Regions from separate parts of the Homo sapiens genome. Here all the other regions are linked to region 3. The links come from fine-mapping of genetic effects on gene expression. A gene starts in region 3. Each other region holds a variant in brackets. All regions are shown on one strand. Distances are between the middles of the regions.

Region 1 (8,000 bases), 62 kb before region 3:
GAAGGGGACTAAAAATACCCCCATTCTGCTGCTCCCAGTCAAGAGACCTCCTTCCCCAAAGGAGGAGCAGGAAGGCAGAGGGGGTGCGGAAGGAGGAGGGGGTGCAGGAAGGCCTGGGCCAGAGGGCCAGCCTGAGCGGCCTCCCTGGCCCTGCAAGGGAGTGTTTGCAGAGGCCTTCTGGGCATAAGGGCATGTACTGGGGGGCGGTGGGTACCGGGCCAACTGGAACAAGACCCCGGTGAAGCAACTTCCTCTCTACGAGACTCAGTTTCCTCATCTGGAAAATAAGGATGCTGGATGCGATTTCCAAGGTCCGCCTGCAGGTCCAAATATTATGATTCTATTACTAATCTCATTCTCCGTCCCTCCACTCCCTGCCCCATGCTCAGGCCCCTGAGCTCAGCCTTTAATCTAGAAGACTTGAGTTTGGATTCCAGTGTGACCTCTGTAACCTCTCCTGGCCTGTTTTCCCACTGAATCAAGGTAGATAAATGTTCTAAAATCATTAGGTTATGGTGAGCATTAAGTGCCTACTGTGGGGCCTGGCATACTGTAGGTGCTCAATACATGTTAGTGTGGTTCTCCTTCCCTAAGGATTCATTTCCTCTACTGGGCCCTGATTCCAGGTCCTGGCAGGGAAGTCTCAATTTCCCTATTGAGACCTTGCCCTCTCCCTGTGCTTCTCCAAGCCCCCAGCATGAGGGGAGCTGCGCTCCTCCCAGGCATCCCCCTGCACTCCCCACCAGGTCCTCACCACCCTTTCCAGGCACCCCTTCCAGGCCCAGCGCCCCGGAGGCTGCGGGGCTGGCTGATTCTGCCTCCCATAGCTTCTTGCTGGAGGTGGGGAAGTGAGCCCTCCTTCCACCTGGGCCCCTGAGCTTCTTTGTCGGGAACCGACAGCGTATCGGGCCTGGGCCCACTGCAGGAAGGTCACTAAGGCTGGCTCATGGTAGCTTGGGGTGGGGGGAGACAAAGAGCCTGAAACGGAAAAAACAGCCCCGACTTCATCTCCTGGCTGTGAAGCGGAAGCCAGCCACAGTGTTCACGCCGCGGGTCCTCAGCCCGGGAGGCCACTCCCTTCCCTCGTGACAGGGGGGTCCTGGACTGGTTTTGGGCTGACCCCGGGCGCCCAGGACAGCGCTGTCCTCCGTGGTTCTGTCCCTGGTGACAGCGACTCCCGCTAGCTAGGCCCGGGAGCACCAGGGGGAGGGAGGCAGGAGGGCCACCGTGGGTGCGGGCCTGGCGCCGGGCTCAGCCCGCGGGGGCCGCGTGGGCGGGGACGGGGCGTCTTGTCGCGGGCACCTGTGCGCGTGGGCGGGCGCGCACTCGCCAGCGCTTTGTTCGTGACCGGCCTTTTAAGGGCTGTCTCACCCATCTTGTCTGGCTCTGCCTCCCTGTTTCCTTTCCGTCCTCTCTCCCACCACAGCCAGCTCCCCACTTTTTTCGCGGGGGCCCCCTCCAGCCTGTCCGGGGCCTCCCCGTTCCCAGGCCAGGGCTTCCCCCTCCTCCCAGACCTCGTTGCTCTGCCCGGTGAGGCCCCGGGCTCCCAGCAGGGGGCGCCTGCTCGCGATCAGGTGGCGGCCTGGGGGCGGCCTGGCGGTCCCGGCGGACCCTGACGCGGCGGGGCTCCGGGGCTCGCGGTGGCGCTGGGAACCACTGTGTCAGCCCTGCGGCTAGGGCGGGGAGTGGAGGACCCCCGGGCTGGCTCTCGGACCTGGACTTGGGGCTTCCGACTGCATTTTCTCCCCAGCCCGCTTTAGAACCTCAAACGTTTCCTACTTGGGACCCTCCATGGCATTTAATTACTTTTACGGATAATTATTTATTCATTAGAATATTAGAAAATCAGGGTTGAAAGGCTTTGCAGAGATCATTGAGTACTTGTTCAGCACTTAAATTTTGCAGAAAGCTGAGACCTGGGGGGTGGAGTGACTTAAGGCCGGAGCTGAGATGAGCTTTTCAGGGGTCCTGATGCCCCGGCAAGCTCCCTCTCCGCTGCACCACTACTGTTATTTCTCAATGTGACCCCCTTCCTAATTTCCCAGCCCCCCAAGCTCCCCAAAACAGAACGATTTTTCCCTATGCAGTTTCCAACTGGCTTCTTTCTGGAATTTTCTCCCTGACAGACTCTGCGCATGCCCACTTGAGTGATCACACACACACACACACACACACACACACACACACACAGACACACACGCTTTCCAGCCTGGCCGGGCCGCCTCGGAATGCGGCACTTGTCGTGAGTCAGGGAGGGTCAGCTGCTCTCTCAGTACGGCCTATGCAGCCCAACTGCTCCTGGCCCAGGCCCAGGGTCACCGCCAGGGCCAGGTGGTTGTGACCTTCCAGTGTGGCCCTGACAGGCCCGAACATGACCCTAGTGCATCTCAGGACTTGGGGGCAGGGGAGGCCAGGGTGCTTCTAACACTCGCCTTCGAGTCTGAGCTATACTCAGCCAGAGGCCACCCAAGTTCTCTTTAAAATGAACTCAAATCTCCATGACCAGGCTGTAGCCAGGTTTACCTCAGAGGGCAGTCACTGGCCTGAAAAGGGGCCCTATGCTCAGAGTAGAGAGGGGTTTTGTGCTGACCCTAATCCGGTCTCTCACCAGTTGCATAATCTTGGGTAAGTAATTTAACCTTTCTGAAGCTTCAGTCTCCCCATCTGAAAAATGAGGATAATAAGAGTCTTCCAGGCTGAGTGCAGTGGCTCATGCCTGTAATCTCAGCACTTTGGAAGGCCAAGGTGGGCAGATCACTTGAGATCAGGAGTCCACGACCAGCCTGGCCAACATGGCGAAACCCTGTCTCTACTAAAATTACAAAAATTAACCAGGTATGGTGGCTGGCGCCTGTAATCCCAGCTACTCCGGAGGCTGAGGCAGGAGAATCGCTTCAACCTGGGAGGTGGAGGTTGCAGTAAGCCAAGATTGTGCCACTGCACTCCAGCCTGAGCGACAGAGTGAATGAGACGCTGTCTCAAAAAAAAAAAAAAATCTTCCTCCCGTGATCACACATGGGGCATAATACACAGCAGAGCTTCTGAAACTTTCATATACATGGGAAGCATGAGGCCCTCTTTAAAATGCAGATTCTGATCCAGCAGGTCTTCAGTGGAGCCTGGAATTCTGCATTTCTAAATTCCTGGGTGCTGCCAACACTGCTGGTCTATGGACCACTGTGAGTAGCGAGGAGAGAGAATGCCCAATACAGTCAATACTCAATAAGGGAAAGCCACATCGCCACTGCCACCTGAATCATCATCATTATGGCATTAATGCTGGCGGGGGCAGGAACAGACCCAAGACAAGCACAGGCCTGTCGGGTGTTGGCTCCTGTCCCTATCACTCATCTCATCATCTCCCGTCTTCCTGATTCTTTCTCCTGGCTGTACTTTCAGCACATGCTCAGGCTACAAGAAACGCTGCCTTAAAAAGTCTGTTTTTGCTGTACAGGAGCTAATGAAAGGGGTTCCAGGAGAGCATCCCCTGAAAAGAGACCTGGAATAAGGGGAACTGAAAGGAGACCACGGCCGAGCCACATCCTCTCCGGGGCCTTAGTCTCCTTCCTCATCTGAATCAACCAGCTGAGCATGTGTTCTATGTCAGCTGACTGCTGGAACCGTGACCGAGCCTCCACACCCTGATTAAGCCACTGTCCGTTGCATATTGGCAGAGCCTAGGCCACTGCCCACCCCGCGAGGTAACATCTCACCAATTTCAGCTTCCAGGCAGTGCAGTGGCCTTCAGGGATCCTACCAGCTCTGATCCCTGCCAGAATCTATACTTCCTGGATAGCTGGGACCACACAGGAGTGTACCAAGGCCAAAGTTTGTTTTTTTTTTTTGTATTTTTTTGAGATGGAGTCTCACTCTATTGCCCAGGCTGGAGTGCAGTGGCACAATCTTGGCTTACTGCAACCTCCACCTCCCGGGTTTAAGTGATTCTCCTGTCTCAGACTCCGGAGTAGCTGCGACTACAGGCATGCACCACCAAGCTCGACTAATTTTTTTTTGTATTTTTAGTAGAGACAAGGTTTCACTGTGTTGGCC[C/T]GGCTGGTCTCGAACTCCTGACCTCAAGTCATCTGCCCGCCTGGGCCTCCCAAAGTGCTAGGATTACCAGCATGAGCCACTGTGCCCAGCCTCAAGGCCAAATTTTGGAGGTCAAGGAGACTTAAAGAGTTTTTGCCCACCACACTCAGCACTAAGATTCTAAGGAAGATCCACCTGTCTGAAAGTCCCAGACCCAGGAATCATCCTTGACAGCATCTCTCCCTCACCTCTCATGTTCCTGGCATTTGTCCCCTCCCTTCATCTCTGCTGCCATCCTGCTCATCAGCCCCTCCGATGTCATCCTGCTTCCCAGCTCCTCCATTCCATCCCAGGATCCAGATGACATGAGCTTTTCAAATTGCAAAGCTGATTACATCACACACACTGCCCACTCCCCGCCTCCCCACCCCCCGCCTCCCCGCCCCCCCACCCCCCACCCCGGCAGCCACCTTTGAAGGCCTGGCCTGTCTGCCCCAGCACTTTCCACACCCTTCTCCTTTGCTCTCTGCACTCTAGCCTTGTGACATCTATCAGTTCCCTGGGTGCCCTGCTCCCTCCCACCTGGGAGCCTTCTTCCCTGTTCTCACTCTCTCCCTCTACCCCTCACCCAGTGGACTCCCTTCGCCCTTCAGCTCGCGCTGGACAGCCCAGGCCAACTCAGGTTCTTCGTTGCAGTTCCCCTGGACATGTTTCACTTCCCTTAGAGCGCTTATCTCCATGTGTAATCTCATCTTTTTAAGGGTGGATTTCTCATTAATGTCTGTCTCTCCAGCTGACTGTGAGGTCCTTGAGGGCAAGAAGCAGGTTTTTGTTCATAATAGTTTCCCCAGTCCCTGGTATGGATCCTAGCACACCCTGAATGGGTGTTTTAAGAAACACCTGTTGACTGATCGATGCAGGAGCCCTTGAGAACAGCTAGAAATGGAAGTAGGGAAATCCCAAAGTGAAAACAAACCCTCAAGGCCAGAGAACAGCTTTGGGGCTATGGCTCCATGCTTCAGGGCAGGAAGGAATGCCGTGACCCTGGGTAGCAGCTCGGCAGGAGTCATGGTGGGGTCCTGGGAAGCGAAGTCAACTGCAGTCAGCCCATGGGAAGCACCACATTTGGAAGGGCAGGGCTGATGGGTTCTCTCACACACCTGGCATTGTTAATGGGAAGGATGGTGTCTTCTCCCTTTCCTCATCTGTTTCACTCCCCTCAGGCCCTTCCCACTCTCGGGAAGTATCAGAATATGTGCAAGAGGCCTAGACAATTCAGGACCCGTCTCCGCACCAAGTCCCATTCCAGGACAGCGGAAAATAGTAGAAAGGCACAAGACCAGGACTGAATGAGCCCTGGATCTGCCACTTAAGGTTGGGGCTCCATGAGCAAGTCACATCATTGTTTTAAGCCTCAATATTTTTCTCCTGAAATGAGGATAATCATATCTCTTGAATAAGATTGTTAGAGGAGTAAATAAAACAACTAATACAGATTCCCTCTGTAGTGTTCTGCACATAGTGGGAGCATCATACATATTTGTCGAATAATAAATGAATAAAAGCTTCTTAATAAGTTTGGAAATTTGTATTCTGGAAATGTTCTCTATCCTGCATGAACATTAGGTTGGATCCATGCAAAATAAGTTACGCCAATTAATCAATTTACTCATTTCATCATACACGCTTGGAAGGAAGACTTTTTGAAATTAAAATGCACATATGCAAAACAACCTGGCAGGGCCCTGGGAGGATCAAATGTGATAATGTATGAGAAAGCGCTTTGTAAACTGTGAAGCCCTGTACAAATGCTAGTTGTCCTCATTACTAACATGTTTACAGCTCGGTTGGCCCTGAAATTGCTGGCTTAACCTGAAAGAGAAAAGTGGGCAACTTTCCAGGCTTCCAGGGTTAGGCCAAAAAGTCCCCAGATGAAGAGGCCTGGGCTGGGCAGTACACAGAATACAATCACCCAGCCCTCTCCCCACGCCACTGTCACAACCAAATTTCCAGTTGAGTCAGCCCAACTAGGGTGGGCTCAGGACCTCTGCACTCAGGGAGGCAAACAGGGTATCTGCTGCCCTTGAGTGCCCAGGCCAGGGGCTACAAATACAGCAACCCCCAGGAACTGCATGGCACGTGGGAGAGTAAGCAGGCCAGGTAGAGCTGCAGAAAACTAAGGCCCACAACCAGCCACAGAAGGCGATGGAGGGACCGCCATTATCCCAGTCTAGCAATCGTTGGCGTTATGAAAGCCCGCTGTTGCCAGATCTAGCTTTTTTTTTTTTCATGAGAAGCCAAAACTCCAGATTTTTATGTGAAATTTTTTGATTTTTAAATACTGGCAACTAATTTTTTAAATGTTTAAAACACTCTATGGGCCAAATAAAACATATGCGCAGGCTGCATCCAGCCAGTAGCCTCCAGGCCATAGCCTTGGCAAGCAGACCTTTAGCCACGACCCAGACCATCCTTCCTGGGACCTGCTGGAGAGCCAAGTCCCTGACTCTCAGGGTATGCTGGTGGGCCCAGAAGAGGCTGCCCCTGGTGCTGAGGACTCACCCGCTTCTGCAGGGGCTCCTCGGCCCTCCTTGGGGGTGCAGCAGCCATTTTCCACTGCTCTTGAGGCTTCAGGCAGGGTCTCAGCTGCACCCTCTCCCTCTGCTGGGGCCCCGCCCTTCTGCCCCCCAGCAGGGCTCCCCTCCTCTGGCTGGGGCTCACTCCGCTTCTCCAAGTCCCCATTGGGTAATAGCTCTGAGGCGCCTGAGTCCTGGGCCATGGATGGGGACTTGGAGATCACCGCAGGGTCCTTTGGCGTGTCACCGCTTTCCACCTGCAAATGTAAGAAAGATACACAAGAGGAGGGTTAGATCAGTGGGCTTAGCCTGTTTTGGATCATTGACCGCTCTGAAATTCTAGAGAATGTTATGCACTTTCTGTCCAGAAACTGTGTTCATATAAACCTTCATGCAAACAGATACATTCACAATTTTGCTTTCAACATCAAAGGATTCCTGGGCTTGACCCCTTGAAATCACGAGTCTGTGGACTCCAGCTTCAGAAACAGGAAAAGAATCCAAGCAGGTTTGCCAGCCTGGTTGCACTTCTCAAGGGATCGGCTCCCCCATCCCACCGCCACTCACTGAGGTTACATAGGACGTCCAAGCCTTCTCTGCAGCCCCTGTTAAAAAAGAAATGCTCCGGCCAGGCGTGGTGGCTCACACCTGTAATCCCAGCACTTTGGGAGGCTGAGGCAGGTGAATCACTTGAGGTCGGGAGTTTAAGAGCAGCCTGGCCAACATGGAGAAACCCCATCTCTACTAAAAATACAAAGTTAGTTGGGGATGGTGGTGCATGCCCGTAATCCCAGGTACTCGGGAGGCTGAGGCAGGAGAACCGCTTGAACCTGGGAGGCAGAGTTTGCGGTGAGCCGAGATCACGCCATTGCACTCCAGCCTTGCGACAGAGCAAGACTCCGCCTCAAAAAAAAAAAAAAAAAAAAAAGCTCCTTGTGCCACCCATAATCCAATAAGACCCCCCTCTCCCTTAGAAGATTCCAGTGCCACCAGATCAAGTCTGGGACTCAGGCTGGTCTGACTTCTGTGGTCAGTGCCCTCCCAGCTTTCCTCTTGGTCTCTTGAGGCATGAGAGTCGAAGGAGGACCCCCAAAAAACCATTCTGTAGGCTCATAGCCTAGCGTAGCCTTCTCCCCTGGCCTGGGCCGCCCCAGATTCTTTCAGGCACTCAGACCCAGAAGAGCCAAGGCTCTGGCAAACAGTTTTCAGGCTCTGCAACAACTCTTCCTGAGCACTGGGGTCTCTCATTCTCCCTTCAAGGGAAATCATTTCTTTATCCCCTAGAGTCTAAGAACTGAACTCGCTAAGGTTCCAGGTAATAAAAATCAAATAAAGAATAATCCTGGCTGTCTGTGTGTGTCACTGCGCAGTGGACAAAGCTCCTCACTTACTACC
Region 2 (8,000 bases), 76 kb before region 3:
TGTCCCCTGGGGTCGGGCGCAGTGGCTCACACCTGTAATCCCAGCACTTTGGGAGGCCAAGGTGGGCAGATCATGAGATCAGGAGATCAAGACCATCCTGGCCAACATGGTGAAACCCCACCCCGTCTCTACTAAAAATACAAAAATTAGCTGGGCATGGCAGCACATGCCTGTAACCCCACCTACTCGGGAGGCTGAGGCAGGAGAATCACTTGAACCAGGGAGTCAAGGGTTGCAGTGAGCTGAGATTGTGCCACTGCACTCCAGCCTGGCGAGAGAGCAAGACTCCGTCTCAAAAAAAAAAAAAAAAAAAACCTGTCCCCATTGACACCAATCTGCTGGCTTCTCAAAAGCAGCTTATCCAAACCCTAGCTCAAAAATCCACCCCCTCCTAAGAGAAAATATCTTAAAGACCTTGCGGTAGACAGAGAATTCTTAGAGATAACACACACAAACACTAACCAATAAAGGAAAAAAATGGGTAAGTTGGACTTTATTAAAAACTTCTGCTCATCAGAATACATAAGAAAATGAAAAGTTCACTGTATCATCCTGCCTCAAACCTGCTCTTCCTCCAAGATTCTCTACCTCAGATAATGAACCCTATCCCCAGCCCAGCTCCCAATACCAGACAAATTTTTCCCTCCCCTCCAACCAGGACCAGTTCTAGCAATTCCTTCAAGTTTGCCTCTCATTACCTCAACCCTCAGTCAAGGCCAAATGTAATGTTCTCCTACCTGGTCCTGCTTCTAAACTTCCTCTCTCTGGGGAATACTTATTGTCCTGCCAGGTTATCTTCCTAAACTATGTGTCCAATTCTCTTCCACCCCTGCTCTCCACTGGACAACGAAGCCTAAATTTCTCACTATGGCAGGAAGACCACTGAGGATGTGACCATCTTGCTTTCTAGTTCTGTCTCTTCTTGCCCATCCTCCCTAACCCCTGCACCCTAGTTACCAGATCTCTTACTACTCCCTAAACAACCCAGAAGTCATGCCTCCTTCTCTTTGCCCTCAGTAGTTCCTTTTCCTGAAATGCCTTCCTCCTCTTTAACACTTTTTTATTTGTTTGTTTATAATTTATTGAGATAGTATCTCACTCTGTCACCCAGGCTGGAGTCCAGTGGCATGATCATGGCTCACTGCAGCCTCGACCTCAGCCTCCTGAGTAGCTGGGACCATTGGTGCACAACACCATGCCCAGCTAATTAAATATTTTTTTTGTAGAGAGTGGGTCTGGCCATGTTGCCCAGGCTGCTCTTGAACTCCTGGGCTCAAGCAATCCTCCCACTTTGGTCTCCCAAAGTGCTGGGATTACACTGCACCCAGCCTCTTTTGCACTTACTGAAATTCTCAAAGGATGCCTGCCTCCTCCAGGAAGCTTTCCTGGAGTCCTCCAGAAGCTGCTCTCATGCTCCTTTATGCTTCATGTTGGGCTCTTTACACAGGAGCACAGAGCAAGCCCCACGCTCTGACTGCCACTGAGGCTTGTTGGAAACATTCCTGCCTCCTCCACTTGACAATGTGTGCCTCTGGGACAGGGACTATATCCAATTGGTCTCCCCCTACCCCGCCACTAGCATAGTATCATGTTTATTTACCAAGTACTGAATTACTAAGCAATCAGTAGTAAGTACTGAGGTCCATTAACTCCTTTAACGAGTGTACTGGCCTCTTAATAAAGCGGCAGAGGGCTCTGGCAGACCACCCCATATGTGAACATCCCACGGCCTCCCTGACAAGCAGTCTGGTTTTTAAAGCAGAGAGAACATTGGCTATTATATTTTCTGCTTTGTCAGCCCCATAGACAGTGCTATGGGAAAAACTTTGAGGCACTCTAGACTCCAAACTCCTAGAGGATTTCTTTGACCACCTCCCTTAGGACCCCACTCCATGCCCTTCCCCCACTGTCCCTGCCAAGCAGTCCTGTTCAGGTCAATGGCGGTACACTGCCTCTCCCTAGGCACCGCCTTCCCTGAGGCCCTTAGGCAGGGCTAGGGAGTTGCTTGCACAGTCCTTCCCTTAGTATTTCTAAAACAACCCTGCCCTGGCTACAGCACAATTCATTCATTTACCTACCAACCTCTCACAGGGGAGGGTAGAATTCTGACTTGCCTTTAAATTTGCTTCCTTAGTGTCTAGAAAATGTTGGAACATAGTAGACACCCAGACACACAAGGTGGTATCTTAAAGACTGAGCACACAGTATCTGCTCAGTAAAGGCTGGACAACCCTTTGGTTTTTTTTTTTTTTTTTTTTTTTTTGAGACAAGGTCTCGCTCTGTCGCCCAGGCTGGAGTGCAGTGGCGCAATCTTGACTCACTGCAACCTCCACCACCCTGGCTCAAACGATTCTTGTGCCTCAGCCTTCCAAGTAGCTGGGATTACAGGCATGTGCCACCACGCCCAGCTAATTTTTGTATTTTCAGTAGAGACGGCGTTTCACCATGTTAGCCAGACTGGTCTCGAATTCCTGGCCTCAAGAGATCCACCCGCCTTGGCCTCCCACAGTGTTGGGATTACAGGCGTGAGCCACTGTGCTGGGCCAAAGGTTTTTTTTTTAAAAAGAGTTTTTTGTTTTGTTTTTTTTTGTGAGACAGAGTCTGGCTCTGTCGCCCAGGCTGGAGTGCAGTGGTGCGATCTCGGCTCACTGCAAGCTCCGCCTCCCGGGTTCACGCCATTCTCCTGCCTCAGCCTCCCGAGTAGCTGGGAGGTGCCTGCCACCACGCCCGGCTAATTTTTTGTATTTTTAGTAGAGAGGGGGTTTCACCATGTTAGCCAGGATGGTCTCGATCTGCTGACCTCATGATACGCCTGCCTTCGCCTCCCAAAGTGCTGGGATTACAGGCGTGAGCCACCACCCCCGGCCAAAAAGAGTTTTTATAAGGATGCTTCACGTATGTGCCTTTAGAAGAGACGTATATGCGAGGTCTGAGAATTCACTCAAATATTTAATTTAGAATTTATGTACAAGGTAATCTAGGTAATAAAGAGAGTGCAGATCATGATTCCAGTCTCACCCCCCAACCTGCCGTGATGGAATTTTAGAATCTCTGGGGTCATCTCATCTATTTCTGTCGCATTATAAACCAGGAAACTAAAATGCCGAAAGCAGAAAGACCTCCTCACATCCATAGCTAAGGAGGGGCAGAAGCTGAGACGAGAAACCAGGCCTCCCAAATCTCATTCCAACATTTTCTTAATCCAGTTTCACAACATCATCCACATGGTCATGAAAAAACAGCAATTCAAGGGCAAGGGTTCAGGACCACATGAGTAGAGCAGGGAGGGGTGGTCGGGGAGGCTGAAAGGGACCTGAGCCTCCTGGCAAAGAGGCATGGGGAGCAGCCCCAACAACTGCAGGCCGGGGGCGGGAAGAGCATGCGGCAGGCTGGAAAGCCGGGCCAGCTCTCTCCCTCTCTTCTAAATGCATTCTTCAATTTCATGACAATTTCCAAGCCAGGAAACCAGGAAAACTGGGAGTGTAGGTTAGTCATTTGGGTACACAACAGAAGCAACACGAGATTTGGAGTCTAGTTTTGCCCATTGGGCCACTCCATCAGGATACCCATGTGGCCGCAACCTACTTACCTAGATAAATCTTAATTTTCTAATAGCAAAATACAGGTTAAAAAAATACTTCTGGCCGGGCGCGGTGGCTCATGCCTGTAATCCCAGCACTTTGGAGGCTGAGGCAGGTGGATCACCTGAGGTCAGGAGTTCAAGACCAGCCTGGCCAACATGGTGAAACCCCATCTCTCCTAAAAATACAAAAAATTAGCCGGGTGTGGTGGCAGGTGCCTGTAATCCTAGCTACTTGGGAGGCTGGGGCAGGAGAATCGCTTGAACCCAAGAGGCAGAGGTTGCAGTGAGCTGAGATCATGCCACTGCACTTCAGACTGGGTGACAGAGTAAGACTCCATCTCAAAAAAAAAAAAAAGACATTAAATGCAGATAATATGTTTTAGGATTGTGGTGAAAGCTAATGCTCCTGGCATAGTGCCTGATGTAAAGTAGGTGCTCAGTGAAGTTCAACACCCTTTCCCTGGTTCAGGCT[T/A]TGCTGTGGCCAGGAGTTGGCCCTGGGCCAGCAACTAGTCACCTACCCCACCCTGCCTCTTTTTTTCTCACCACTAAAAAGTAGGGGTTGTTCTAAGAGCTGTTCTCTCTGTGCCCCAGAAGTGAAGACTCTGGTGCGCAACCAACCCATCTACTTAAAGGACAATGGGGAGTCCCTCTGTGGCAACTTTAGTAGCCTATGGTAAAGGCCAGCCCTCGAAGTCACTACTGCTTACAGGCTGTCATGGGAGCCTCTAGAACTTGTTCAGCCTTGGGTAAAGTATACTTGCTGTGCCTACTCCAAACATCATCATCTCCTTCAAGGGTGATGTTATTTTTGAGGCCACGCTGCAAAAGGTCAGGTAGGGCAAATAAGTGAGGAATGTCTTCCAGTCCAAATGCTCTAAAACTGCTTCCCATACAGTTGGCTAATAATTTGTTTTGAGCCTTTACTGGTCTACTTTGCACTTCCATTTCTCCTGAACTAGACTAAAGCCCAGGAGATCACACCTTATTATCTCCTCCTTCCCATAGCCCCTAGCACAAGGCCCCTTTACTTAGTAGGTGCTGAGTGACTGCTTATTAAATGGAATATGACACAGCATGGGGGACCTTCTGGACATTCATGGCCTGCTCTCCTCAGGGCAGACAGGAAGCACAGTCTGTTGAGACTGCAGGGTTGTAAAGTCAGAGGAGGCAACATTTGCTAAGCTCATAGAAGCAGCAGCACAAATGGCCAATAAACATAGGAAAAGATGTTCAACCTTATTATCTGGGAAATGCCAATTAAAAGCATAACAAGATACTATTTTCCCACCCATTTGACTAGCAAAATATTGATGTTGGCAAAGGTCTTCTCATACCCTGTTCACAGAAGCATAAATTGGAGTGCCCTTTTTAGAGGGCAGTTTGGCAGATGTCATAAAATGTAAAATGCACATTCCCTTCAGCTAGGCCTTTTTCTTTCTAGGTATCTGTCTTAGAGAAACAGATGCACAAAGAGGTATGACTAAGGATGTTCACCGCTGCAATGCTAAACAGTAAAATATCATAAACAACATAAATGGCCACCAATAACAGAATGGCTAAATAAAACCATGGGAATCCACATGGTGGAATATAATAGTAATTACGTGGCTAGATTGCACAGACTTATTGGAAGTCAAAAACCAAGCTGTAAAATGAAACTACAGTGTGGTTCCATTTGTGTAAAAAGAACAGGAAAAAAAGAACCCCTGAAGCAAAATTATATATTTACACGCATACACACGGATAGGAAAAAATCATGACGTTACACCAAACTGATAGCATCAAGTATTTCTGGTGAAGGAATTAAATTTTCAGGCCAGGTGTGGTGGCTCATGCCTGTAATCCCAGTACTTTGGGAGGTGGAGGCAAAAGGACTGCTTGAGCCCAGGAGTTCAAAGCCAGCCTGGTCAACATAAGGAGACCCCCATCTCTACAAAAAATTTAAAAATTAGCCAAGTGTGGTGGCACATGCCTGTGGTCCCAGCTACTCAGGAGGCTTAGGTGGGAGGATCACCTGAGCCAAGAAGTTGAGGCTGCAGTGAGCCATGATCATGCCATTGTACTCCAGCCTGGCCAATGGAGCAGGACCCTGTCTCAAAATAAAATTTTGGGGTGGCAAGTTTGGGCGGACTTTTTCACAAGAATGTATTTGTGTAATACTTATGTAATTTAAAATACTTTCTAAAAAATTATAAAGTTCCTATTATATGCTAGCTCTGTGCTAGGAGCTTTAAATGTTGTGTGTTGTCCACACAACTCTGAGATAAGAATTGTTCATTCATTCAGCACACTTTCACCCTGCACCTCCCACATGCCAGCCCTGGGGGCAGGGGGTGCCCAGAATGCCTGTATTGAACGAGCTTAAATGCAGAAATGGGTAGAGGCAGAAAACAAGCTGGCGAGTGCTGCTGTCATGGAGATGCAGAGTACAGCCAAGTCCATCCACAGAGGAGGAACCTCAGCTGGGGTACAGGGTAAGTGATGCCTAAGGTCCCACACCCAGTAAGTGGGACCTTTCTTAAGGCAGTATTTGAACTTGCCTCCAAAGGTCGCAGTAAACAGCAGCCAACCCTTAAGGTCCATGAAGGCTCTGCTATCTGCTGGGCAGCCCTGGGCGGAGGGAGTGGGTTGTATCTCAGTGTGGCGAGGGAAGGGAGGAGAGACTATGATGTTCCAGTCACAGATGTTTCATTATCACTATTCAATATTATTAAGCATCTAATAAGTATAAGGATGCATGAGTCAAGGGTCCCTACCTTCAGGTCGGAAGCAGGAAAGAGACCAGATCCTAGAACAATAGGACATGGTACCCGCTGCCTAGACGGAATTTAGAATCCGGCTGGGGTGAAGAGATTAATGAGCGAGTCATGCCATCAATGTGCTGTAACTGAGTCCTAAAACCACCAGCCGCGACACAAACTGGAGTGAGTGGCTTCCCAGGCGAGATGACCGCCCAGCTACTGACCCTGGGTCTCTGTGCTCATCTGCCTTGCAGAGCTACAGGGAGGGCTAATGAAGCGAGAGGCCCTTCCTAACCCTCAAGCCCTCCATCAGAGTGCATTTTGCTCTGAGAATTAGAAGGAAGAGGAGCTAAGGGAGTGCCTTCCTTTGGGAGGAGGAACTGCCCTACCCTGCCCTCCCCACAGCCCTGGCCAGCTCTGCCAGGCCAAGGAAGGTTCTCCTCAGCTCAGAAGCCTGGTGAGAATGGCAGGAATACAGGATGGAGGAGACTCTGGCCCCCCTTTACCCATGGAGGCTGTCCATACCAGTCCCCATGCCATCCTCCAGGTACACCTGTCAGCACCCCTGGAAAAACCACCTCGAAATCAAGTGTGTGGGCCCTTGTCATGGTGGAAATCTAAGATCTCATGTTCCCAGAGAAGTGGTCCCACATTCACCTACCTCCCAACTGCTTAGCCAGCCAGCAGGTATTCACTGGGCCTGTTCTCCCTGCCCATTGCATTAGGCCAGACAGAGGAAGATGTGATCAACACATAAGAAACAGTGAAAAATACCCTGATGAAATATGATTGAGTGCTAAGTAATATTAACCGTAAGGACAGTCTGAGTGCAGTGGCTCATGCCTGTAATTCCAGTACTTTGGGAGGCCAAAGCAGGCGGATCACTTGGGGTCAGGAGTTCGAGACCAGCCAGGTCAACATAGCAAAACCCCATCTCTACTTAAAATATAAAAATTAGCTGGGTGTGGTGGTGCGTGCCTGTAATTCCAGCTACTGGGAAGGCTGAGGCGAGGCACGAGAATCACTTGAACCTGGGAGGTGGAGGTTGCAGTGAGCCAAGAGACTGCACCACTGCACCCCAGCCTGGGAGACAGAGTGAAACTGTCTCAGACAAACAAACAAACCCCAGTGAGGGTTACAGGGATTCAGGGAAGGGAAGAGGTCATTGTGGACTGGAGAAATCTTGGAAACCTTCCTGGAGGAGGCAGCAGCTCTTGGCCTCAACCCTGAAGAATGGACTGGGGAAATCACAGCAGGAACGATGACAGGAAGGAAGGAAGGAGCATGGCAATGTCCCTTCCTAGGGGACACCCTTCTATTAGAGGACTGTAGTGAAAGTGGGGTGGGCTGATTGTGGAGGTCGAAGGGTTGAAGACTTGAGAAATAGCCAGAGGGTATCTGACATGATGGGGGAGACAATGGGGAGCCATTGGAGGTTCTATGGCAGGGTGTGATCATGATTAAAACAGAGCTTAGTCCTTACAGGACTAGTAAGCAGGTGAAGGAACAGCAACAGGAGATGGAACAGACAGAAGACAACAACTTCCTTCCCAGCTCCAGCAGGAATTCTCACTTCAGCCTCAGGGACTGCAGAAATGTCTCATTTTCCCCGTTCACTTATTTTCCATTTCTTTCATTTTGTGACATTCTGAGTCGTCTTAAATCTTGGGGGAGGG
Region 3 (10,659 bases):
CTATCACTCGCTCGCAGACCAGACCTGACCCTGGCCTCCCCCTTAATCGTCACAACCCCCTGGGGTCAGTGTAATTTAAACCCTGTTCTGTTGCTCTCCAAGTCTGAGCTCTTAAGCTCTGGTCTATGGAATAGAAAGAATCAGGATCCGACACCAAATGAGCTCATTTGGCCCCTTCCCCTCCCTCCCTGCTGTCCTCTCTCCACCCCTACCCCCACTGGCCGCCACGCTGAGGCAGTTCAGAGCGATCCTCCGTGGGCCACAGAGGAGTTCCGGAGTGCAGGGATCTCCTCCCCAAACCAAGGCAGGGCCTCAGCCTGGCCTCCAGCACAACCCAGGCCCCAGTCCACCTCCCGGGCACTACAGCCACCCACAATGATGTCCTGCCCCTGAAGCCCCACTTCTGTGCTCTGGGGCGCTTCTGAGATGCCACCTCCTTCAAGAAGCCTTCCCTGATGACCTTAGTTGGTTGTGACCTCACTCTCCTTTGAGCACTTTATTTCTCCCTCTCCAGTGACCCCAGTCCCACTCTGCAGTTCTTCGTTAGCTGGGCGCATCCTAAACACACCGTGTCCCCTCAAAGCCAGCACAGGGCATGGCTTACAGGAAATGCTCAGCACATCTCTGGAAAATGGAAGCGAATACGGTGGGAAAGTGCTGCTGCACTCAAGACAGGATGAGAATAACGAGCTGAAACTACAGCGGGAGGGATTTCAGGTGGAAGCAAAACAACCTGTTGACACGAGATTTGTTCAACTCAACAGATTGCTAAGTGTCGCTGAGAAGCCTCCCACCTCCCAGGATTTTTAATCAGAATCGGCACTTTCCTCATCTGACCAAGATTCTGCAAAAGACACAGGAAGGTGGACGAGGCTTCTTAGAGCACTTCCTGCAGTGCTAGTCCACGTGAGCCACCCAAATGATGAAAACAGACACAGCTAACAGGAGGGCTCCCGCTCCTCTAAGGCTGTAACGCACATGATCTCACTCCATCCTCACAACCACCTGTAAGCAGAATCCACGCACACTCCCATGTTACAGGTGAGGAAACTGAGGCCCAGGGAATCGAGTTGTTGCCCAAGTTCCTGCCGCTGGGAGGTGTCAGAGTGCAGCTCCCTGTGACTCGAGGGCCTCAAGCTGCCTTGACACTGGCTCATGTGGAAGCAAGTCCTACCCATCCACAGGTGGCGGCACACCACGTACACACACATCATGCACAGACACATGTGCACTGAACCTCGTCTTGCCCACACACTTAGCCAAGTGGAGGCAGGCTCGGATACAGACATAAATCTCAGGCTGACACTTCATGGATCTCAGATTTGGTCATGTTCTTAGGGAAAAATCGTCAGAGAGAAATGATTGAAAATGAGCCCTCAAAATTAAAGTGGAAAGGGATCTGGCACCTTTAGTAGACCATTAAAGCCCTGCTCAGGAACAGCAAAGTCCCTGCAGAAACCCAGCCTCAGGCCAGGTGGGCTTCTGACGGGCTCTCTGCTCACATACTAATATTCAAACAAAAGTAGAAGCTATTCCCCGAGGGCCGCAGCATGGGGAATGGCATTGGGGTAGATGCTCTGGCCCTACCTGCTGGAGGCCAGAGACACACTCAACTCCCAGTGGGGCACGGGGTGGGGAGGATACGAGCACCAAGTCCAGGACCCCAGGCCAGCAAGTTGGAGGCAGCAGGAAGTACCCTGGGAGAGGCATGTGACTGGCACGTGAATGGCCCTCCAGGCCTCAGGCTCTGGGTAGCATGGACAACCCTGGGAAGAACTGGGCACCACCTCCCACAAACAGTCCCGTACCCAGCACTAAGAGCTCTCAGAGCTTAAACTCCTCTTTCAGACTGCAATTCTAAGGTTTGGGTTCTAATGCTGACATTTCGGGCCCAAAGATGGGGAGAGGGTGGTCTGTTTTAACTCACCCATTAGAGTCCTCTTTCTACCTGGATCCCAAAAAGAGAAGCCTTGGGGGAGTCTGGCTCTTGCTGGGAAAGAACTTGGGTCTTTCAGGGAGGTGTGACCCTGAGGAGCTGGCCTGTAAGTAGGCAGTGGCCGCTGGGCAGCGGCGCACAGCAGCAGGGGGAAGGGAGCCCAGCACTAACCTGCCTCGCTGCCTCGGGGAGAGGACTGGAGGGCAGTGCGCTCCCCTCGCTCAGCAGACACCCTCGGAGGCCTCACCGCTTGTCCAATGGGGACCCAGGGAGGCAAGGCCCCTGTTTCCTGGAGATCACAAACTGAGAGCGGGGACAGACACATGCAGCAGCCCAGGTAAGAGGTATAGCATGGGGCATCTTCCCCCGAGTGCAGGCCTGGCTCCACTTCTTCCTGCCGGTGACCCTGGACAAGGATTTTACCGTTTGTCCTGTCTTCCTAGCTTTTTGAGAACCACTGGCAGAGGTGGGTGTGAAAGCGATAGTAAAACATCCATAAGGGACTGAGGAGCTTACTGTGAATTGGACTTGAAAAGGAAACCTCAGAAATTATCCACACACAGGGATTTATACACAAACCTACAGGATACACACGTGCCGAGGCTTAAAGGAGGCTGTACTTTTTACACCCTCTGCAGAGTCGGACGTGACCAACCCGTCTCTTGCAGGGACCCTCCTCACACTGCCTCTCCTTCCCAAGGCCCAACTCGCTGGGCGCCCTGATCTCTCTCATATCTCCTTCTCCTTGGAAGCCTTCCCCTATTACTGCCATGTGCCGAAAAACAGACCACCCTGTCCCCATTGCTAGGCCTGAAATTCCACCACTAGAATCAGAGCCATAGAATGTCAAAGCTGGAATGGACCTTCCGGCTCTAGTCCAACCCCCACCCCACAGAGGAATCCTGTCCGCAGACACCCTGACAGATGGCTGCTGGCGTCCTTTCCTAGGCTTCTCCAGGAAGGACTCAGAGGGCAGCCCTGTGGACCAGTCCACTCCTTGAGTCTAGAAGGAATTCACCTTTCTTAGGGTCAGTCTCCTATGGAAGGCACTGGTGCCTGGGTGGGGTAACGAGGGAAGTTTGGTCGGCCTGAATCCGCAGCTGCTTATCTGGGGAGGAGCTGCACAGAGGAGGGGGACCCACCAGGGAGGCAGGCAGGTGCCAGAGCTGCTGCACAGGCCAGCCTGGTCCCTCGCCTGGAGCCAGCACATGTGCACACACAGACTCCCACCTTGACAGAGCCACCTGTCACAGCCCAAGCAGGGCCTCGGTAGAACCTGGAGGCAGAGGGGGACCATTTTGCCCCAGAAACCCAGCAGGAACTCCCTACAACCCAACTCTCCAAAGGCAGGCAGCTCAGAAAACTACCTGGAGATGGCCCCTGCTAGCCAACCAAAGAGGGTCCCCGGGATGCCTGGCCCCCCAAATCCCACAGGCCAGTCCTAACACCCAGGCAATAGCAAGGCGAATAGCTCCCCTGGCTGCAGCTGTCACATCTGCCCGCGAGGGAGGAGGCGACACTGGAGCAGCACCTGATCCCAGGATCCCTTCGTAGCCGCCCGCCCAGGAGGCGGGTTCAGCCGCTGGCAGCCTAGGGTGAAACATGAAGACTGAGCAGGCCCTCAGGGATGCTGATGGCAGTCTCTGGGCACGGCAGTGAGGGGCAAGTTGGGTCACAGGGCGGACAGCGCTTCTCCCCAAGGCTTCTGTCCCCGCTGGTTTGGAGGGGGGGTAGCTGCGCGGCCCTGGGGCTCGGCCCTGCCCACCCTCCCGCCTGCCGCAGGCCAGAGCTGCCCTGCTGGGTGCCAGACGCCATGTTGGGTCAAGGTGCAGCCGCAGGGGGCTCCCCTCAGGAGCCGGGGGAGGCAGCCCCTGGGAACCAGAGGGCACTGCTCCCCGCCCAGGGCGCCAACACCTCCTCAACTGGCCGTGCAGCGGAGAGAGGGTGCCAGGACGGAGGGGATGAGGAGAGGGGGAGAAATGGCAGAGGGGCGCTGGGGTGGGAGAGGGTGCCCCCAAGAAGGGAGGCTTCAGGAAAGCGAAAAGCAGTTTGGCAGCCCCAGGGCCGCGGGCCCCAGCGATGAGGGGCTGGGGGAGGCCAGGGGCGGGCCCTGGACCCGCGCCAGCCCGGTCCGCGCCGAAGGGGAGGGAAGGCAGGGCGGCCTGGGGGAGGGGAACTGGGGTGAGGGCGGGACACGGACAGCCGCCGCCTGCGGCTCCGAAGCTCGAGGTCTCCCGGGGTGCGGGGACGTGGGGCCGAAGACCCCGCTCCGCAGCCGCGGCGAGGCCTCGTCCTTCACTGTGCAGATGCGAAGCTTTCAAGGACACGTCTGCACCGGCCCGGCGGGGTGCGTGTGCGTGAGTGTGTCCGCGTGCGTGGGAGTGTGCGCGGGGGTGCTGGAGGGGCGACCCCGGGCGTACCCCCCCTGCGCCGCTCCCGGTCCCGGCCCCGCTACTTCCACCCCCGCGTTTTCCGGCCCCCGCGGCCCGGGCCCGGGCCCGGGATCCTCGCCCGCCCCCGCCCCGCCCCCACATTGCGGCGCCGCCACCGCGGCCGCCCGGGCACCCACGGCCCGCGGTGGGGACAGGGAGGAGCCGGGCACGACCACCCCTCTCCGTGCCGCCGGCACTCCGGGGGAAGGTGTGCCCCCAAGGCGGGCGCTCTCCCCGGCCCCGCCGCCCCTCCCGGCCCCGCCGGCGCCCCGCACCCCCAGCCACAGGTGGCCGGAGGAGGATCGCGGCGCGGCGCTCCCCGGCCCGGCCCCGCCATCACCCCTCGGCCCGCCCCCGGGGGCCTCCCGGGTCCCCCGCCCCGCGGGGCCGAGGAGGGCCGGGCGCCGGGGGGAGGGGCGGGGGGCCGGGTCGTGCCAGGCTGCCATTTTCTGCCGCCGCCGCGGAGCCTGCGCGGGGCCCGGCCCCCGCCCCCTCCCCCGCTCCCCCGGGCCGCCGCGGGGGCCGATCCTTCTGGGTCGGGGTCCGCGCCCTCCGGCGCCCTGGCCGCGGGCTCCAGGCGGGGCCGCGGGGCTGGGGCAGAGCCCGGAAGGCGGGGGCGGCCCGGCCGGGGCCCCTGCGGCAGCGGCGAGCCGGGCACCGCGGCGCAGGCCGGCGGTGGAGGGGCCCCCCGCGGCATTGTATAGACTTGAACTTGAGCCCGGAGCCGGGCGGGGGCGGGGAGGGGGGTCCGCGCCGGGAGCGGGCGGGACGGGAGGGGGCGCCTGCCGAGCCCGCGGGGACATAAACAAACCCTCAAATCCCCCGCGCCGCCCCGGCCAGCCCGGCCCGCCGTCCCCGCCTGCAGTCCCGGCCCCACGGGCGCCCGGCGCCGAGTTGCAGGGGTCCGGGAGCGTGCCCCGAGCCGGGCACTGCCAGCCGCGGCGCCCCCCGCCCGGCTCCCCGGCTCCCCGCCGCCTCCGGGCCGGCCTTCCGGGCCGCCAGCAGCGGCGCTCATTACCGTATGGCCGGTGGGGTCGGGCCGGCCCGGCTGCGCGCCCTGGTGCCGCGGCGCCGCGTCCCGGCTCGTCCTCTGCTCTCGCCGCCGCCGCCGCCCGCGCGCCCTCCCTCCCTCCCGGCCCGCCTGCCTGCCTCGCTCGCTCGCTCCCTCCCTCCGCTCGCTGTCGCGCTCCCTCTCTCCGCCTCCTCCGCCGGGTCCCCCCCTCCCACCCCTTCTCTCCGCCTTCCTCCTTCCCTCCCTCCGGCCGCCCGCGGGCCCAGGCCTCCGCCCGCCGCTCGCCCCCCGCGGCCGCGCTGGCCCCGGCCCCGGCGCTGCGGAGCCGGCCCGGGAGGCAGCGCCGACTGGGGGGCCCCGGGGCGCCGCGGCGGGAGCGGCCTGGGCGCGCGGCCGGTCCTAGCGCCCTCGGCGCGACTTCCCGGCCTCTGCGGCCCCGCCGGGGTCCCCGCACGCCGCTTGGCGGAGGTCTGGACCCCGCACCGCCCAGACCGGGGGCCGGGCCCCGGGCGCCCCGCCTCGGCCGCGCTCCCGGCCACTCAGAGCCCCTCGAGTCGTAGCCGAGCTCCGGGCCTCGCCGCAGCCCTCCCCACGCTGGGCGCCCCGCTACCTGGCGCTGCTTCTGCGCTGGGTCCCCGCATCCAGCACTGGCCGCAGGGACAGCGGCCCCTCCTCTCCCCGGGCCGGTGTCAAGTGCCTCCCCCCGCAGCCCGCGGAGCCCCCGGCGGCCTTCGCCCTGCAGTTCTCCCGACCTCCGCCAGAGCCCACTGCGCTCTGCCTGCCTCAGCACTGGGGCTGGGGACAGCAGCGCTGGCCCAACCGCGCCGCAACCCCCAGCCAGGTGCCGCCGCGGAGTAGAGGCCACTCTGCTCTACAGGGCCAAGGTCGGAGCGCCAGGCTCCTCCTGGCCGTCCCGCAGGCTCCAAAGCCTCTCTGAGATGAGCTGCCTTGAAGGGAGTGAGTTCCCCGTACCTTGAGGTGTCCAAGTAGAGTTGGGTGTCCTCAGTTGGGCACTGGAAGACTGAAAGATTTCATGAGGTGGGAGGTTGAATGAAATGACATTGAAGGTCTCTTCCAGCTGGAAGATTCTGTGTGTGCCTACACACCGCCCTCACCCCTTCACCGTGGGGGCTGTTCTCCTTCCCCATGGAGCGCTCAGGGCTCTAGGTTCCTGACTTGGGGCACCTCTGTCTAATTCCACCAGCACAGCCACTCACTATGTGCTCATCTCACTCCTCCAGCAGCCGCTGTAGGACTTGGGGCTGGGCACCCCCCCACCCCCGCCTCCAGCCTCCTTGCGCGCCCCAGCACCCCACCAGCCACCCGCAGCTCTGCACCCCGAATTCTACTCAGCACTTCAGCTATATCACAGTGCCCTGAGCTCCCTGACTGGCACAGGACATGGCGTGCTCCCTTCCCAGGGACCCGCCATCCTACTTGTGGGCAGGGATTGCTGGAGTTGGTGGTGGGACTCACTTCACAGTGAAGCGGATCCTACTTTTCCCTTCTCCCCATGCAGCCCAGCACCCGCCCCCCCAACGCCACCCTTTTAGCGTCACAGAACCGAGTTGCCAAGTTCTCTGGGACCGGGAGCTGACCTTTCATACAGACGGGAAGGTTTTCCTTCGGGAGGTTCTCCAATGCTTCCAGGTCCCTCCGTCTCCCCAACCCCCACCCTGAGCCTCGATATCTGAGACCAGCTTCTAGGCCATAGTTCTGGCCGTTTTCAGTGTCACCCTCACTCAAGTGGCCACCCCGCCCTACTGATGATAGGCCCTGCTGTCCATGGTCCCCACCGGCCCAGAGACTCCCAGTGCTCTGTGAGGACAGGGGCCGCGTCTGTCATCCCTGTAGCCCAGCACTTGGTGCTAGGAGATTCTCAGTAAACCTTGGTGGAATTAACATGTGACCCTCCTGGGCTGTTCGCTTTCTACATCAGGAGGGGCATCCGTGAACACTCTAAATGGCGCACCCAGCTTGGCAAAGGAGAAGACCGTTTATAGAAGGATGACTGAGATACCTCTGCCTTCATCAAGGGCTTACATATAACACGGCCCCAAACAGCAGCGACTGTTTACTGAGTGTCTACTATGTGCCAGGCACCAGACATGGTATTTTCTCTAGTCTTCACTAGCCCTGTGATATGGCTTGTACTCTCCTCACGCTACAGATGAAGAAACTGAGGCTCAGTCTTAGTCAAAGCCATACAGTTGGGAAGTGGCAGAGTCAGGATTCAAAGCCAGGTTCATCCGGCTCTGAAATCACCCCACATCACATCTTTTTTTTTTTTCTTTTATTGAGACACAGTCTCGCTCTGTTGCCCAGACTGGAGTGCAGTGGAGTGATCATGGCTCACTGTAGCCTCGACATTCTGGGCTCAACCAATCCTCCTGCCTCAGCCTTCTGAGTATCTGGGACTATAGATGCACACCACCATGCCTGGCTAATTTATTATTATTATTTGTAGAGATAGGGGCCTCTCTATGTTGATCAGGCTGGTCTTGAACTCCTGGGCTCAGGTGATGCTCCTATCTCAGGCTCCCAAGGTGTTGGGATGACAGGCATGAGCCATCGTGCCCAGCCCACACCACACTTTTGAAACATAGTTGCTCTTAAGAAGCTGAAATTCAGTGGGTGCAGTGGCTCACGCCTGTAACCCCAGCACTTTGGGAGGCCGAGGCGGGAGGATCACTTGAGGTCAGGAGTTCAAGACCAGCCTGGCTAACATGGTGAAACCCCGTCTCTACTTAAAATACAAAATTAGCTGGGTGTCATGGCGCATGCTTGTAAACCCAGTTACTCGGGAGGCTGAGGCAGGAGAATCGCTTGAACCTGGGTGGCGGAAGTTGCAGTGAGCTGATATCGTGCTACTGCACTCCAGCCTGGGTAACACAGCAAGACTTTGTCTCAAAAAAAAAAAAAAAAAAAAAAAGCTGAAATTCTCAGGGCCATGATGAGCAAATGTAAATTTCTATTCAATAGGGCTATTTATGATGACATTATTAGGAGCCACCAAAGTCACTTAGTATGGTAAAGTATGTAACCTTGGATGTATGGGTTGCTGGGGTCAAGAGGTCCAAGGTGACTGTGTTAGGGGGTTTATGTCTGTTAAGAAACAACCGTTTGGCTACAGGGTTGGTTCCAGACCCTGACCTTAATGTCTTTGGTCCCAAGAGGAGGCATATCTGTGCTAGCTAACCCTCATCACTGCACCTCATACTGGGTTAACTCAGGTTGGTTTAGCCTCTCGGCTTCTACACCCCTCACTTGTGTCTGCCGCACTGTGGCCTCATCAGAATCCTGGCTGATCCTAGATTATCTAGGGTATGTGGCAGTATCAGGACAGGCTAGGTTGTCCTGCAGTAACAAACAACTCCAAATCTCAGTGACTCAAAACCACAAAGTTTCTATGGAAAACAGTATGGTAGTACCTCAAAAAAAATTAAACATAGAATTACCATATAACCCAGCAGTTCCACTTCCGGTGTACAGTCAAAATAATTGAAAGCAGAAATTTTTTTGTTTGTTTTTTGTTGTGTTGTTTTCTTTTGTTTTGCTTTTGAGATGGAGTTTCCCTCTTATTGTCCAGGCTAGAGTGCAGTGGCGTGATCTCGGCTCACTGCAACCTGTGCCTCCTGGGTTCAAGTGATTCTCCTGTGTCAGCCTCCCAAATAGCTGGGATTACAGGTGCCCACCACCATGCCTGGCTAATTTTTTAATTTTTAGTAGAGACGGGGTTTCACCATGGTGGCCAGGCTGGTCTTGAACTCCTGACCTCAGGTGATCCACCTGCCTCAGCCTCCCAAAGTGCTGGGATTACAGGCGTGAGCCACCATGCCCGGCCAAAAGCAGAGATTGGAGTAGATATCTGTACACCAATGTTTATAGCAGCATTATTCACAATAGCCAAAAGTGGAGGCAACCTGATGTTATCAGCTGATGAATGAATAAGCAAAATGCAGTCTATCCACACAATAGAAGATGATCCAGCCTTAAAAAGGAGGGAGTCCTGACACCTGTTAACAACATGCATGAACCTTGAGGATACTATGCTAAATGAAATGAGGCAGACACAAATGCATAAATACTGTAGGATTCCACTCATATGAGGGTCCTGGAGTAGTCAGACTCATAGAGACAGAAGTGGAATGGTGGGTGCCAGGGGCTGCGGGGAGGGGGAATGGGGACTTGGTATTTAACGGGGATAGAGTTTCAGTTTGGGAAGATGAAAAAGTTCTGGAGATGGATGGCGGTGGTGGTTGTACTTATGACACTGAACTATACACTTAAAAATGATTAGGCCGGGCGCAGTGGCTCACTCCTGTAATCCTAACACTTTGGGAGGCCAAGGCAGATGGATCACGAGGTCAGGAGATCGAGACCATCCTGGCTAACACGGTGAAACCCCGTCTCTACTAAAAATACAAAAAAAAAGCCGGGCGTGGTGGCGGGCGCCTGTAGTCCCAGCTACTTGGGAGGCTGAGGCAGGAGAATCGCCTGAACCTGGGAGGCAGAGGTTGCAGTGAGCCGAGATCATGCCACTGCACTCCAGCCTGGGCGACAGAGCGAGACTCTGTCTCAAAAAAAAAGATTAAAAGGTCCGGGTGTGATGGCTCACACCTTTAATTCCAGCACTTTGGGAGGCTGAGTCAGGTGGATCACCTGAGGTCAGGAGTTCAAGACCAGCCTGGCCAACCTGGTGAAACCCCGTCTCTACTAAAAATACAAAAATTAGCCAGGTGTGGTGGAAGGCCCCTGTAATCCTAGCTACTCAGGAGGCTGAGGCAGGAAAATCGCTTGAACCCAGGAGGCGAACATTTTAGTGAGCCGAGATCATGCCACTGCACGGCAGCCTGGGCAACAAGAGTGAAACTCCATTTCAAAAAAAAAAAAAAAAGGCCGGGCGCGGTGGCTCACACCTGTAATCCCAGCACTTTGGGAGGCCAAGGCAGGTGGATCACAAGGTCAAGAGATGGAGACCATCCTGGCCAACATGGTGAAACCCCATCTCTACTAAAAATACAAAAATTAGCTGGGCATGGAGGCAGGCGCCTGTAGTCCCAGCTACTGGGGAGGCTGAAGCAGGAGAATCACTTGAACCCAGGAGGTGGAGCTTGCAGTGAGCCGAGATTGCACCACTGCACTCCAGCCTGGGCAACAGAGTGAGACTCCGTCTCAAAAAAAAAAAGGTTAAAATGATAAATTTCATGTTATGTCTATTTTACCACAATAAAAAAAATAGAGCATAGTCCAACTGTACATTACATTTCTTCAGTAGA

What was found.
Region 1: its variant is fine-mapped to the expression of DNMT3A in whole blood (TOPMed, PIP above 0.99).
Region 2: its variant is fine-mapped to the expression of DNMT3A in whole blood (INTERVAL, PIP 0.97).

The regions. Positions count from the first base shown.
Region 1 is chr2:25,275,850-25,283,849 of GRCh38, forward strand. It overlaps DNMT3A (DNA methyltransferase 3 alpha), which reads right to left. Exons shown (of 23, transcript NM_022552.5): 4 at 6,592-6,862. Among named protein-coding and RNA genes, the nearest start is that of MIR1301, 49 kb to the right of the region's middle. RefSeq lists enhancers at 433-1,024, 1,615-2,204, 2,205-2,794 and a silencer at 1,083-1,712. The variant C/T (reference allele first, on the strand shown) is at 4,051.
Region 2 is chr2:25,261,895-25,269,894 of GRCh38, forward strand. All of the region lies in intron 6 of DNMT3A (DNA methyltransferase 3 alpha), which reads right to left. Among named protein-coding and RNA genes, the nearest start is that of LINC01381, 62 kb to the left of the region's middle. RefSeq lists enhancers at 2,106-2,689, 2,690-3,274. The variant T/A (reference allele first, on the strand shown) is at 4,056.
Region 3 is chr2:25,336,440-25,347,098 of GRCh38, forward strand. It overlaps DNMT3A (DNA methyltransferase 3 alpha), which reads right to left and starts at 5,486. Exons shown (of 23, transcript NM_022552.5): 1 at 5,387-5,486. RefSeq lists silencers at 4,209-4,328, 4,609-4,848, 4,949-5,118, 5,409-5,618, 5,679-6,158 and an enhancer at 6,279-6,398.